Homo sapiens: one gene and its partner. The protein of the gene in region 2 interacts with the protein of the main gene of each other region in a pairwise test. Each region holds a gene or a part of one and is shown on either strand. Other genes may lie near its edges.

What was found.
Region 1: the proteins of TPSG1 (region 2) and HPCAL1 interact in binary tests that used the Homo sapiens proteins (3 or more experiments, as listed by UniProt).

The regions. Positions count from the first base shown.
Region 1 is NC_000002.12:10,305,883-10,313,153, reverse strand, and holds part of HPCAL1 (hippocalcin-like protein 1), read right to left. Parts: intron 1,452-7,271; exon of another isoform or gene 1-1,451. UniProt on the Homo sapiens protein: May be involved in the calcium-dependent regulation of rhodopsin phosphorylation.
Region 2 is NC_000016.10:1,222,130-1,229,380, forward strand, and holds the start of TPSG1 (tryptase gamma preproprotein), read right to left. Parts: upstream 3,124-7,251; coding exon 3,078-3,123; intron 2,500-3,077; coding exon 2,473-2,499; intron 1,466-2,472; coding exon 1,294-1,465; intron 789-1,293; coding exon 523-788; intron 213-522; coding exon 67-212; intron 1-66. Other genes in the region: uncharacterized protein LOC124903621, read left to right, coding at 3,122-3,432, 4,325-5,111; TPSB2 (tryptase beta-2 preproprotein), read right to left, coding at 6,521-6,685, 6,771-6,934, 7,062-7,251.

The DNA of each region.
Region 1 (7,271 bases), on a different chromosome or scaffold from region 2:
TCTTCTAGATCAGTGGTTCTCATGAAGACCCTTTCAGAAGAATCACACTCCACCATCATCCACTTGGGTTCTCTATGCCTATACTCATCCTGTCCTGACTACCCTAATCACCACACCAACAGTAGAAAACCCCCAAAGAACAGCTAACTCACCAGGAATGTGCCATGTCAAGCACGACCCAAAGCAGCCCAAAGGTTGAGAAGCACCATGATGTTGGTGACAGTGATGGTGATGGTGGTGACAGTGATGATGATGACGATGATAGTGATGGTGATGGTGGTGGTGGTGATGATGATGGTGATAATGACAGTGATGACAGTGATGATGAATGGTGATGATGACGGTGATGGTGACGATGGTGACAATGATGATAATGACGATGATGGTGATGATGACAGTGATGGTGAATGGTGATGACAGCAATGATGGTGGTGATGGTGATGATGATGGGGATGGGGATGATAGTGATGATGATGATGATGATGGTGATGGAGAAAGGTGATGATGACAGTGATAATGATGGTGATGGTGATGGCAATGGTGGTGATGGTGATGATGATGACAGTGATGGTGATGATGATGAGGATGGGGATGACAGTGATGATGGTGATGGTGGTGGTGATGATGATGGTGATAATGACAGTGATGATAGTGACGGTGAATGGTGATGATGACAGTAATGATGATGGTGATGGTGATGATGGTGATAATGATGATAGTGATGATGATGGTGATGACGACATTGATGGTGAATGGTGATGATGACAGCAATGACGGTGGTGATGGTGATGATGATGGGGATGAGGATGATATGATGATGATGATGATGATATGATGATGATGATGATGGTGATGGAGAAAGGTGATGATGACAGTGATAATGGTGGTGATGGTGATGGTAATGATAGTGATGATGATGGTGATGACAGTGATGATGGATGTTGATGATGACAGTGATGATGATGGTGATGGTGATGATGGTGGGGATGATAGTGATGATGATGATGGTGATGGAGAATGGTGATGATGGTGAGGATGATAGTGATGATGGTGATGGAGAATGGTGATAATGATGGTGGTGATGGTGGGGATGATAGTGATGACGATGATGATGACAGTGATGATGAATGGTGACGATAACAGTGATGATGGCGATGGTGATGATGGTGGTGGTGATGGTGATGACAGTGATGATGATGGTGATGATGACAGTGATGATGAATGGTGATGAATGGAATGATGATGATGATAGCGACAGCAATGATGATGGTAATGATGATGATGGGGATGGGGATGATAGTGATGATGATGATGATGGTGATGGAGAAAAGTGATGATGTCAGTGATAATGATGGTGAGGTGATGGATATGATAGTGATAATGATAATGGTGATAATGGTTTTGGGGAGCCAGCAACTGGCCCAGCACAAACCACAGGGGGAAGGAGCTACAGGCCACAGTGAGCCCTTTACACTGCTTGGCGATCCCTGGCCCCAAAACCTGGAATTCCTTACCTGTGCTCTACATCTTCTCCCCCCACTCCCATCCACACTGTGAAAATAATTCTCAAATGCATAACCTTTCACCTTACAATGAGCTCTGAGAATAATCAGCCAGGCCGTATTGTTTTTAGATAAGGTAACAGCATATCACCAAGAACATGTGCTCATAAAAGCAGCAATTCTTTATCCCTGGATGTCTTCAGAAAGAAGAGGGGAAAGCACCTCCTAAGAAATAAGAATAAATTGTACCTGCCAGCATTCCAGCATGAAGGCAAGCAGGGCCTTAGCACCTGCCAGAGCCCTGCGTCTACCTTTACTCGCTGGGAAGAAAGACACAGAGAAGCCACGGCAGCCACATCTCATGTCCCACCCCTGGAGGCTAAGCCCCTGCCAGGCATCCAGGCTGCATCACCAGCACGGGCTCCAAACTGCATGACTGAAGAGTTTCTAATAAAGCACACCTCAACCACTGCTGAGGGATTGGGGGGCGGGGGGACAACCAGTTCTGCCACCCATGGCCCTATCTCAGCCCCTGAAGCTGGGGGCTTTTCTGGACCTCCTACATCCCACACTCATTCTGCCAGGAGTGTCTCCAGCCACACACAGTAAATACGGAAAACTGCATGATGTTAAAAATGATTTTTTTTCAACATAGGTGATCGATTTCGAGAGGTTCTCACTTCTCTCCAAAAATTGATTACAGGGCAGCAAATAGAAAAGATGGGAGTGAAAGGGAGGAGTTGGGGCTGTCATCAATTCTGCTTTCTGGAAACGTCTGTTAAATGCACAGAAAGAAGGCAGAGAGCTGAGCATTTTGCTGCTAGAGAAAAAGAGCGCTGCAGTCGATACACACTGCTGTACAGAACCGCAATTCTGCAAGTGTGCCCAGCAGTCCTCCTCCGGCCTGCCAGCACGAACACTCCCAGACCCGATCCATGCTCTGCACACACTCACAGAGGGAGGGGACCACCAGCTCCGGGCCTCGTTATGCCTGAGGAACAACCTGCAGCTCTCTCTGTGCAACCCCCACCACCAAGCTCAGGGTCTCTGTAGGTGCATCAGGGACCCTGACAGATGCTTCTCAGAAGGCATGAGGCTAGGACAATCCAAAATGGCAGCTCCCCAAACTCCAAGCAGTAACCAGCACTGGCTGCCTTCCGGAAGCCTCCACACGCACAGCAGTCACAGACTCCAGCATCAAATCCCTTGCTACGACAGCCTGGATCAAAACATGCCTCATAAGCCCGAATTTGAAAAGGAATTCTGTACTCAGTGGCAGAGGAGGCACTAGATCCAAGAATGCTTAAAGAGTAATGGCAGCCACCACCACTTATTCCACACGTGACCAGCCAGACTCACCTAGGTACTCACATCTGCGTCCCCATCTACGTCTGAGCTGCGCCTAGAACCCCTTTCTGCACATGACCAAACAGACTCAGAGAACATCACCAGCCAGTAAACAGAGCAAAGACTACAGTTCAAACCCAGTCTGCCACATCTGCAGACCTGGGTTTGAATTGTAGTTCCTGTCAATATCTGAGCTCAGCCTAAAACCCCTTTCTGCACCTGAGCAAACAGATTCAGAGACCATCACCAGCCAATAAACAACAGAGCAAAGACTACAATTCAAACCCCAGTGTCCCTGATCTTTCCAAGGTATTTTGCAAATGAGGTTCTAATACTCCGATTCAAGAATGTCTTGGTTCTTTCCACCATGATTTCTTTCATGGTTTCTGTCCACCATGAGAGTTCTCTACAACCATGGGAGAGAACGGTCATTTGTGATCTACCTGGCGTACAATGGGTATACAATTTCTGTGTCTTGGTTTGTGCATCTGTCAAATGGCATCTCATCCTCTGCTCTCTTCCTCAAAGAGTGAAAATGATCCAAGGTGAGAAATGCATCAGAAATGCACCAAGCCACCCAAGGCCACAGCACCACTGCATTCAACGCCCTCCCCCAGCCCCTTCTATTTACCAGGAGACCTCTCTACACACACACATTGCTTGAACCATCTCTACCTGTTCAGTTGTGGACTAGGTAGGTACTGGGGCAACACTGTGTGAACATGTGTCACACAGCACTCATGCCCTAGAAGGAGCTTCCATGGCTTAGGAAGGGATGACAAGACTCGTACAGGAAAATCTGAACACCAGCCCAGGCAAGGCCATAAAAGGGCATATCATTACTACCAAAACAAGGGCGGAAGAGAAAGTGACCTCGTTTAATTCTTGATCCTTCTACTTTCTGCTGATGCCCTTGGGCTACTTATTTGCTCTGGGCCTCCTCAGTTTTTTCATTTAGAAAAATGGCTTGGGCTGAGGCACAGTAGTTCACACTTATAATTCCAGCACTTTGAGAGGCCAAGGCTGGAGGATTATTTGAGCCCGGGAGCTCAAGACCAGTCTGGGCAACATAGCAAGACCTCGTCTCCACAAAAAATTTAAAAATCAGCAGGCATGGTGGTGTGTACCTGTAGTCCTAGCTACTCAGGAGACTATGGCAGGGGGATTGCTTGGGCCCAGGAGTTCAAGGCTGCAGTGAGCTGGGATCACATCACTGCACTCCAGCCTGGGCAACAGAGCAAGACCCTATCTCAAAAAAAAAAAGTTTGTTAAGAAGCAGGGTCTCACAATATTGCCCAGGCTCAAATCCCTGATTTCAAGCAATCCTCCCACCTCAGCACCCCCTAGTAGCTGGAACTACAGACAAGAGCCACTGTGCCTGGCTTAGAAAATAGATTTGTTTTGTTTTGTTTTGTTTGTTTTTGTTTTTGATTTGCCATTTGCCTCACAAGTTCTTGATGAAACAAGTTAAGGTATGTATGTAGCAGGGCTCACATCACCTGACACATCAATACATGCGCTGTATTTTAAATCCCCACACTCTGCTAGATACTCAGGAGTTATACAAAAGAAATGTGAGGAACACAACTTCAGCTGGTCCAGCCAACACACCTTGGGTATTCTGTAGGTGCCAGTGCTGAGCCAGGTGCAGGCAGGAGAGGCAGGTAAGAGAGCTCGCCATCTAGCAGCGGGATGGCCAAGCACCCAGCTCACTTCGTCGGTGCTGGGGGATAAATTGATTCTAACTAGAAGACTCTAGGAAGGCCCAAATGAAACAGCTCTTGGGCCGAACCTATGAAAACACACTAAGAAACATAGAAAGAAAAGGCAAATCTAGAGACAGAAAGCAAATCTGTGGGGGACTGGCGGCTTGAGGACGGGGACAGGGAGTTTGTACAAAAGAGGGATCTTTCTGGGGTGATGGATATGTTCCAAAACTGGATTGTGGTAATGGCTATGAACTCTATTAATTTACTGAAAATCATTAAACTGTACACTTAGAATGGGCATGCTTTATGAGAGATAAATTCTATCTTGGTATTAATTAAAACAAAAATGAGTAGGAGTTTAGCAGATAAGGAAGTCTGGGTGAGACAGAAGAAAGGCATCGAACAATCCAGCCCCAACTCCAACCCCTCCCCTGCACCCCCAACTCTCCCAGGTATCAGCTTAGAGGGTGCTTCTCCAGGGAGCCCCCTATACTGGGGTAGGAGCTCCCCTCCATAGCACTTCACGCTCCCTGGTCTTATTTGATAGGTACCCCACATACAACCCCCAGCCCAAGACCTTAAACTCTGCACAGGTAGGGAGGATGCCTGGGCCCAACCTTCTCAGACTCCAGCTTGGTCCAAGGCACACAGTAGGTATCAGAAGCACTTACTGCGTTAAGAGAACAAACCAAGGTTTGGTGGGGTTGGGGAGGCAGAAGACAGTGGGATGATGAAATCTGCGTTTTAAACTGGGAAGTGCTGCCGGTGTGGCTGGAGTGAAGGAACTGGAAGCATTCTCTGGGCCAAGGGCAGATAAGGCTCCGCTGTGCCGGAAGAGTGGGTGTGAGCCCTCAGAGAGGGCTGACCCAATTAGATGGCAAAGTGAAGACAGACAAAGAGCTCCAAAACTCTCCAGAGATTTCAAGTGAAGACAGAGAAAGAGCTCCAAAACTCTCCAGAGATTTCTAGCTTTAACAAATGAGTAGATGAGACGTGTTGACCATAATAGGTAGGAGACACAGCTTCAGTGAGGGAGATGTGTCCTCGGCTCTGTTTTGATGTGGAACAGCTCGGAGCCCACACCTAGTGTTAGGTCTGCAGCTCAGGGGGACAGCTCAGGTGTATATCTATATCACCTGCCAATGCACAGATGTGGGCATAGGTGAGTTCAGCCAGTGCACCTGGGCAGGTAGAAGGAACTGTCCTCTAGACATGCACTTAATATCATGCCTACCTGAGAGGAGACCTCACTTGCCTAAGGGGACACAGAGCAAGGAAAGATTTAAGCTAGGGCAAGAGAGTACTGAGGCGAAATCTGGGAAGACTTCCAAGAGGAGAACCACGCACCACCCAAAAGCCTTCTTCCTTTTTTCAGGGTCACAGCAACCTTATCCATGCAGTACGTATTTAACAATCCTGAGTTTTCTTAGCCAAGGGTCAGAGACCCATCCCTTGCTGGAGAAGACCTCTTGTCTCATGCCACAGGTGGGGCTAAGACACCTCCACCCCCAGGCTCCTGGCTTCCTGCCAACTTGGGTAGTACCTCAAGCACCAAAAAGATCCAAATACCCAGACAACCCAGCTGCGGGATTAGAAGCATTCAGGGTGCACTTGCTTCTTAAGGTAAAGGCACACAGCCCCAAGAAGTCATCTTTCCTGCCCTGCTGCTGGCAGAGGAGGGTGGCAACAGGAAGAGAGTGGAGGTCTCTGGGAAGGATTTCTTTAGTTCGTCATGCCTCCGATGTGAAGCTTTGCCTCTGAAATTCAATTTTACTTGAAACAACATGGCCAAGGTAGGGCTCTTTAAAGGATTTACTGTGCTTTTCAGATGATTTAAAAATCTTGAGACTTGCGCCCTGCTCATCAGCATCTAAGAAATGTTCCACCTGTCAAACCGTATTGATTACCTGAAGTCATATTACAATCTGCACCACTAGATTCCAACCATTTTTTAGTCTTTGTAGAAAGTGATTTGAAGAAACCTTTTTTCCGTAGGGTAACTGGCACCAAAAGAGCCCCTAAGCCCATGCTGCTGTCTCCATATACAGCCACCCTCTGTCATTCCCAGATTAGAAACTCAATCTAAGGGGAAAAGCACAAGAGCTACCTGACATTCACAGATGTGCAGCTTTACATGAGGACATAAGAACGACACAGAAACCCCCTGCTACCATAGGAGAGCAGGGAGCCCCAAAGTAGAGTGTGATTAAAATCTACAAGTGTCTGCTCATCCTAACTCCAAACATGCCTCCCCCACCCCCCAGCACAGTGACATCAGGTGCTGACAAACTAGCAGAATACACATAATCCCCCATCAATCCTGGCCTGGCAACTCATCAGTTGAACGCATTATCCCACAATGAACAAGCACGGTTTAGGGCTTGCTGGAATGCAAAATTTTAATACAAACCTAACCCCAATCTAGATAAAAATTCAGCTGCCAAGTAGCTTAATCTTCGGTGCCAAATAAACTCCGGGGCCCCCGTTAGTACCCTGGATTATCACTGGTTCATGAGTGAGTGTGGTACTCTACCACTTATGAGTAGCAAAAAGGGTCTTAGAATAAGTGTCACAGGGAGACAACTGCTCTGACGCACACTCAGCAGGGCATGCACTGTACCCGCGCTGCAGACCTTGGAACTGTGCTTGCAGAGCCCTGAAGGTAGGGGGTGTGAGCACCAGCGCTTCAACAGGAGGAAACAGCTCCAGGGTG
Region 2 (7,251 bases):
GAAGATGGGGAGCCCCTCCCTGGGCTTCAGCCGCCCCCATCCTCTGTCACGGCCTGGCAGGCTCACCTGGCAGGCATCCCCGGGGCCCCGGGCACACAGCATGTCGGGCTGAAGGATGCTGCCCCCGGGGCCGGGATAGTCCCGGCGGCAGGTCTCTGTGTCCACCACGGAGACTTTCACCTCCCGCAGGCTGTACGGGGGTGGCAGAGGCTCTGGGGTGGGGGGAACAGGCTTCAGAGAAGGTTGGGGCACCAGGCCCTGCACTGGGGGGATGGGAGACCTTGCCAGACACAAGTCCCATGCCACCACGACCCTCGTCACGGCACGTGGGTTGTGATCTGACGTTTGGCTGCTGCTTTGGATCCACACGACAGGCTTTGAAAAGGGACAGCCGATAGGGGCGGCCTTGGCTGGGTGTGGAAGCCACCAGGAGCAGGTGGTAGCATCAGCATCCCTCAAGCCAGCTCTCTTCCTGCCGCCCTTGCCTTCCTCCATCCCAGCATCCCCACGGGGGCTCCTCACCTCCCTCCCGCGTATAGCCCCAGCCGGTCACCCAGCACCGGATCCCAGGGCAGAAGTCATCTGAGGCCTCCGGGAGGCAGACGGGCAGGATCCGGCTGGAGAGGGTCACGGGGACACTGAGCTCCACCAGGGCGATGTCCCCGCTGGTCCCCGGCTGTCCTGAGGGGCTGGAGTGCAGGATGATCTGCCTCACGGTGGAGAAGTGGGGAGACAGAGTGATCTCCAGTTCCCCCAGGTGCACCTGGTAGTCGGATGAGTTCAGGGACCTGGGAGGGAAGGTGGCTGGGTGAGAGGGGCCAGCTGCGGAGGCTGGAGGTCAGTGTCGGCCCCGCCCAGACCCTACCCTTGCAGGCATCCGAAGCCCAGCTCTTCCCTCCTAGGCTTGGGACGCAGAAAGCCTGGGCAGTGGCCTCACCCTGCAGGGCCCAAGGACCACGGCAGCACCTTGGGGTTCCTGCCAGCCCCTGGAAAAGCCAGCAGCATGCCCGACACCAGCAGGGGCTGGTCAGGAGGCAGATTGCAAGCTCAGCTCCACGTGAAGAGACCGAGGGGAGGGAAGGAGGGAGGGAGCTGTCCATCCCTAGAGGTGAGCAAAGAGCTGCAGAACCTCACAGAAGGTGGGCAACCAGCTCCTCCCTTTCCATTGGAAGGAAGTAGGCTCAGAGTTCCCAAGCCTCGGAGTGAGTCAAGACCAAGTGGAGGCCTCTGCGCTGGCGCATGCCCCACTGGGGCCTGGACATTGAGACTGCCCCTGCCCACCCGGACACTCACCCGGAGAAGCAGTGGGCAGCTGTGAGCACCCACTGGGGGCTGAGCAGTGACCCGCCGCACACGTGCACCCTCCGCAGGCGGAGGCTGGCCTGCCATGGCCATGCGCCGGCCGGGGCAGCGTGACCCCCCACGATCCGGCCGCCTGCATCCGAAACCTGCGGCCGGCCACACCCTAAGTCGAAGGAGGAAGGGGTGCCTGGTGGGGATCCCAAGAAACCCACTGCACTTCCTCCATGAAGCCTTCCCTGACCACACCTCCCTGCCTTCTTGGGGACTTTGCTCTTCAGCTCTCTCGTCTGCCAGACTCTCCCCAGAAGCATCGTGGGTGCAGCAGAAATGACGTCTCAGGAGCAGTGAGCGCGCCTGGGGCTCAGGTCGTCCTTTCTAAGCACCATGCTCCACAAACTAACCAGGGCTCCCGGAGGCGGTGGAAAGGCTGCAGAGGGCCCCTAGGCGGCTAGAAAGGGGCTCAGAACGGTGGAGCCCCCGAGAAGGCCCGGGGTGCTGGGGGTGGCTGCCTAGTGGGCCCCGGTTTTCCTTCAGGGGTGGTGGAGATATTCGAAGCTGGATAAAATTCGGGGGGCGGGGGGCAGACAGCACTGTCCAAGGTGCTCGGGGCCTCTGAATTGGACGCTTGATAATGTAACTTTATCTTCTGTAAACTTCACCTCAGTAAGTTAAGAAGAAATTAAGAGGAAGTCAGCTGGAGACCCACTGGCCACACCTGGGTCTGCCTGAGCTGGATAATTGTGCTGGTGATGGAGTGTGGCCACTGGGCTGAATGGAAGGGAAGCTGGGATGTAGACAGACAGAGATGTTTATAGATAGGCAGCGGGTGTGGGGTGGGGCACCGGCTCTCCCACACGGCAAAGCCCCCAGCTGGTTCCAGGGCCACGGTGGGGACGCTGTGGGGAGAAAGTTCGAGGAGGGCCAGGTTGTTTCATGGCCTCAGAGCATCTCCCAAGGTACAGACTGACTACAGTGGTGGTGGGGGAGACAGCCCTGCAGCACACCCCGACCAGCCCCACTCAACCGAGAGATGCGAGCAGAAACCACGGCGACAAACTATGACCTCCCCGGGCCCCCATTGGGACCCCAGGGAAGGAGAGGGTCACCGAGGCCCTCCTGCCAGGCCTTGCCTGCACCCTCCCCCACACCCCACACCTGTCAGAGACGTACCTGGCTGCAAAGTCCTGAGGGACACACCTGTGGGAAAGACGAAGGGCCCAGGATGGAGGGGGCTGCCAAGGAGAGGGGTGTGCGGGCTCCAGAGGCCCCTGCCAGGCCTCAGGGCGGCACTGGGGTGGGGCCTGGTCCTGAGCAGAGGGGCCCGGCCTGGTGAGGCTGGGTCAACTGCTGTCTCACTGGCCCAGGGCTGGGTGGGACAAGCCACAGGCCATAAACGGCAGCTGGAGGCCGGGAGCTTGGCCTCAGGCCTGGGCCTCCTCCCCGCCCTCCAGGTCCTGCTCAGGAAAGAAATCACCAGTGTTCTAGGGCCTGGGACTCCTGGCACCCCCAACTCCCACCCGCACCCCCAACTACCACCCGCCCTGCCAACTCCTGCACCCCCAACTCCCACCCGCACATCCCTCCTGCCTCTCCCCAGCACGGACAGCTGGGCCTCCAGCCAGGGGTGCAGTCTCTTCAGAGGAGACACGGGGCCCCACAGGGTGGGGACTCAGCATGTTTCTCCGTCTCAGACCAGCCCCCAGTTTCACCCCCATCAGGGGTCCAGGCAGGAAGCAGATGCCCCCCCATCCCCACACCCAGGCCAGGTCACCCACCGGGCACAGCCAGGAGCAGCAGGAGGCCACAGGCCCCAAGGGCCATGGTGTCTGCCCACTGTAGGGAGAAGGAGGGCCAGCCTGACCCTTGGACCTGCTGGGCGTGGGGGATAGGGGTGGCCACACACCTGCTGTCAGGCAGGGCGGGAGGACGGAGGAGGAGGCCGGAGCTCCACAGACGGCCCCACCTGTTCCTTCTGCACCTCAGAGAAGGGTCGTCACCTCCATTTATCCCTGTGTGGACGCCACAGCCCTGGCACCAAGTGGCCGGCTCCGTCAAGGGAAAGCGGGGAAGGACAGAAGGCAAAAGTACTTCTCACCTTGTCTCTGCTCCGGGGCCAGGGCTGAGGGAGGGGTGAGTGTTCCTCTGAGTGCCGCCCCCTCCAAAAATTACTCCCTGGTTCCCTCGGGGCACGCCACCCCCTCTCCTTCATCCTCTGGGAGCCCAGTCCTGGGGGTTCTTCAGGAGGGTCCCAACTCAAGGCCCAGCAGCCCTTTGGAGACAGCTCAGGCCCTCGTGACAACCACTCTTTGAGAAGTCCCTGTCCCCACGTCCGGCAGCAGGTCCTGTGCTCGTGCGGCAGATCAGATGGGCACCACTTCACGGCCCAGCCTGGGTTGGCCCTTCCTAACCGTCCTGGCTGCCCCAGCCTGATGACTCAGCTGATTAGGGGCCCTGGGCAGCGCCCGGGACTTTCCTGCCGCCCTCCCCAGATCCAAATCACAGGCCAGGCTGGAGGGTCCAGCTGAGACCTTCTAGGTCAGGGATCCCCTCTTTGATGTGGGGAAACTCAGCCACGGGTTGGGGGGAGTTGCCTGACCACCCACCAGGATGTGGCCTCCCAGGCACAGACGTGGCCGCCTGCACGCCAGCACGTGGGGTAGCCAAGGCTCAGAACTGGAGGTTCAGTGTTTTTCCTGGTGACCAATAAGGACAACACCAGCATGCGGGGCCAGCAGTGCACCCACGGCCGGGCACCCTCCTCCCTCACGGCAGCCGCACACCTGGAGGGGGCGCCTCAGGGGAGGCAGGACAGTCCCACCCCACACAAGGGAGCGGGGTCTGAGCCACGAGTCCCCGGCCCAGGGTGCCCCTAACAGGGCGATGTCACCCAGTGGGGAGGGAGCCTGAGGGGCAGGGTCTTCATGGAACCAGGTCCTCTAGTCCTGACCTCTAGGGCTGTCCCCAGGTCCCCACAGGTGGGGACTTCAGGGCCCTCACCTGTCCCAACTCAATTCACCTGCAGCACTGGGGACCCCGTCTTTCTGCCTGTGCCCCAGCACGCCACTCCCCGCAGAGTGCTCCACACGACCCAGATTGCAGGCCTGCTGGGGAGGAAGAAGCTTCAGGCACCATCCCCTGAGCCCCAGCAGTCCTGTGACATGGTGCCGTTCACCCCCACCATTGGACAGGAGAGCCAACTGAGGAACCGGGAGGGGGGCCTGGCCCTGGTGATTGCCCCCAGCTTGGTGGGGTCTCCTGTTGTCCAGGACCCTGGGAGACCTGGGATTGCTTCTGTCTGCGGTGGCCTGGCCACCTGGGTGCCGTCCCCTCGGTGGGAACCCTGTCCCCCCCACTCGCCCTCCGCCTCACACCCCCCTGTGACGGGGAACCAGGGCCTCCTGCCGGCAGCCACGTGGGTGACCTTGGAGCAGGTGCCCCCGTCCCAGTCAAAACGCAGGTGGCTGCAGCCCTGGCCAGCAGCCTGCCTGCCACGTCCTGAGAGACCCTTCCTGCTGAAGCTGACGCTCACATCTGCCAGTGTCACTGGGCTGAGCTTCACTGAGCTTCCCAGGGATCTTAGATCTAATTTGGGAAGCTCTGGGGCTGGAGCCCGCCCTCCCCCTCCACCCAGTGACCGGCCCCTGCTGTCCACCTTTCCTTACACCGGCAGCCCTGTCCTGAGGGGCCGTCTTGCTTCCCTTCGGGGTCTCATCCCTCCGACTCCCACCCCGCAAAACCTCCAGTGGGCGTGTGGAAGTGCTTCTAGGGGCTCAGTGTTCCCTGGGGGTCACCCCGTGCTGTCTCTGTGATCCCTAGAAGGTGGGATGGGCCAGAGGGAGGAAGAAGGGCCCGAGTTCCAGGTCCATCTTCATTAACAAGACGCTGGGCCTGCAGAACAGGAGCCGAGGGATGGGCCTTCAGGGGCTGCAGAGGCAGAGGTCACGTGGGGCTGGAGAGGGCACTGGGAGTTGAGTCCACCCCTTGTGAGGACAGAGGTCATTTGCAGAGATTCGGGAGACTAAATGCACATCTCTGCATCTAACAGTTGGAAGGAAAGAGTGAATGTTTCTTTAGAGAGTTGTTTTCAACCAGAACAGCCCCGCATTTCATTCCTGAGTGTAATCATGTTCAAATATAAAATGCAAACAAGAGCCCGGGATAAAATGCAACACTCGCCAGACGCAGAGGGCTCACCTATTGATGTAGAGAAAGACCTCAAAATGAATTTGAAAATGTCAAACTCAGGCCGGGTGCGGTGGCTCACGCCTGTCATCCCAGCACTTTGGGAGGCCGAGGCGGGCGGATCACTTGAGGTCAGGAGTTCGAGACCAGACTGGCCAACATGGCGAAACCCCATCTCTACTGAAAATACAAAAATTAACTGGGCGTGGTGGCTCACTCCTGTGGCCCAGCTATATGGGAGGCCAAGATGGGAGGATCGCTTGAGCCCAGGAGTTAAGGCTGCAGTGAGCCCTGATCACACCACTGCACTTCAGCCTGGATGACACAGCGAGATCCCGTCTCAAAGCAAACAACTAGGCAAAGCACAAGCAGTGGACGGAGGGGCCGGGAGAAGAGCTCGTGGGAAGCGTGGGGTAGGGGCTCGTGATGGGCAGCCCTGGGGCTCCCGGTGACCATTCTCTGTCTTGACCCGGTTGCAGGGACCTGGCTGTCCTTTATAATCAACTGAGTTGCCCGAGTGGCTCTGTGTGACCCGAATGCTGGATGCATCGTGTGGGGAGAAGCCAGCCTCGGGGACCAGGGCTGCCCAGGAGGCCCCGTCCCACGGTGACTGGCTGTGCCTTGAGGGCTAGGACCTCACACTGTGGCAGGTGTCCTCAGCACACCTGGACCCCTTCTCTCCCAGTGACATCCACAACCAGAAACACAGCGATGCACACCAGTGATTTCCATGCACTTTAATGAGGTCCAGCACTCAGGAGGATTAGCGCCCACCACCAGCTGCCTGGGCAGGGGAGGGCCGGAGGGCCCGGTGCAGGCGTCAGGCTTAGGACAGGGAAGGGGGCTCAGGATGGGGAAGGGTCCTCAGGACAGGGGAAGGGGCTCAGAAGAGAGCAGGGGGCTTAGGACAGGAAGGGGCACTCAGGACGGGGCAGGGAAGGTGTGGGGGGCAGTCGCCACCTGGGTAGGAAGCAGTGGTGTTTTGAACAGGAGGGGCTGGCTCTCCAGTGACCCAGGTGGACACCCCAGGCCTGACTCACGGCTTTTTGGGGACATAGTGGTGGATCCAGTCCAAGTAGTAGGTGACACGGGTGTAGATGCCAGGCCGGTTGGGCTGGGCACAGCCCTCGCCCCAGCTGACCACGCCCGCCTGCAGCCAGGTGCCATTCACCTTGCACACCAGGGGCCCTCCGGAGTCGCCCTGGGAAGGTCAGAGGTCAGCGCTCGCCGAACAGGCCTGGGAGTGGGGGTTGGGGGGCGGGGGGCGGGGGACAGGCGGGGCCCACCTGGCATGAGTCCCTCCGGGTGTTCCCGGCACACAGCATGTCGTCACGGACGATGCGGACGTCGTCTCCCGTGTAGGCGCCAAGGTGGTATTTTGCGTCACAAATGTGGTTTTCCATTATGGGGACCTTCACCTGCTTCAGAGGAAATGGCGGTGGGAGGCGCTCTGCAGGTGGGGAAGAGGGTGCAGCCTCAGGAGGGGGCCGGGCAACCCCCACCTGGAGCCCAGAGGGAGCCCAGGGGCTGGGCTGTGGCTAAGACCCTGGCCCCACCTCCACTGTCCCCAGACCCACCATCATTGTCCACATCGCCCCAGCCAGTGACCCAGCACGGCATCCCCGGGGGGAAGGTCTCTGAGGCAGGGGGCAGGGTGACCGTGTGGACGTGGCTGGAGACGTTCACCGGCTCCTCCAGCTCCAGCAGGGCGATGTCCGCTCCGATCTGGGCGGTGTAGAACTGTGGGTGCACGATGATCCTGCTGAC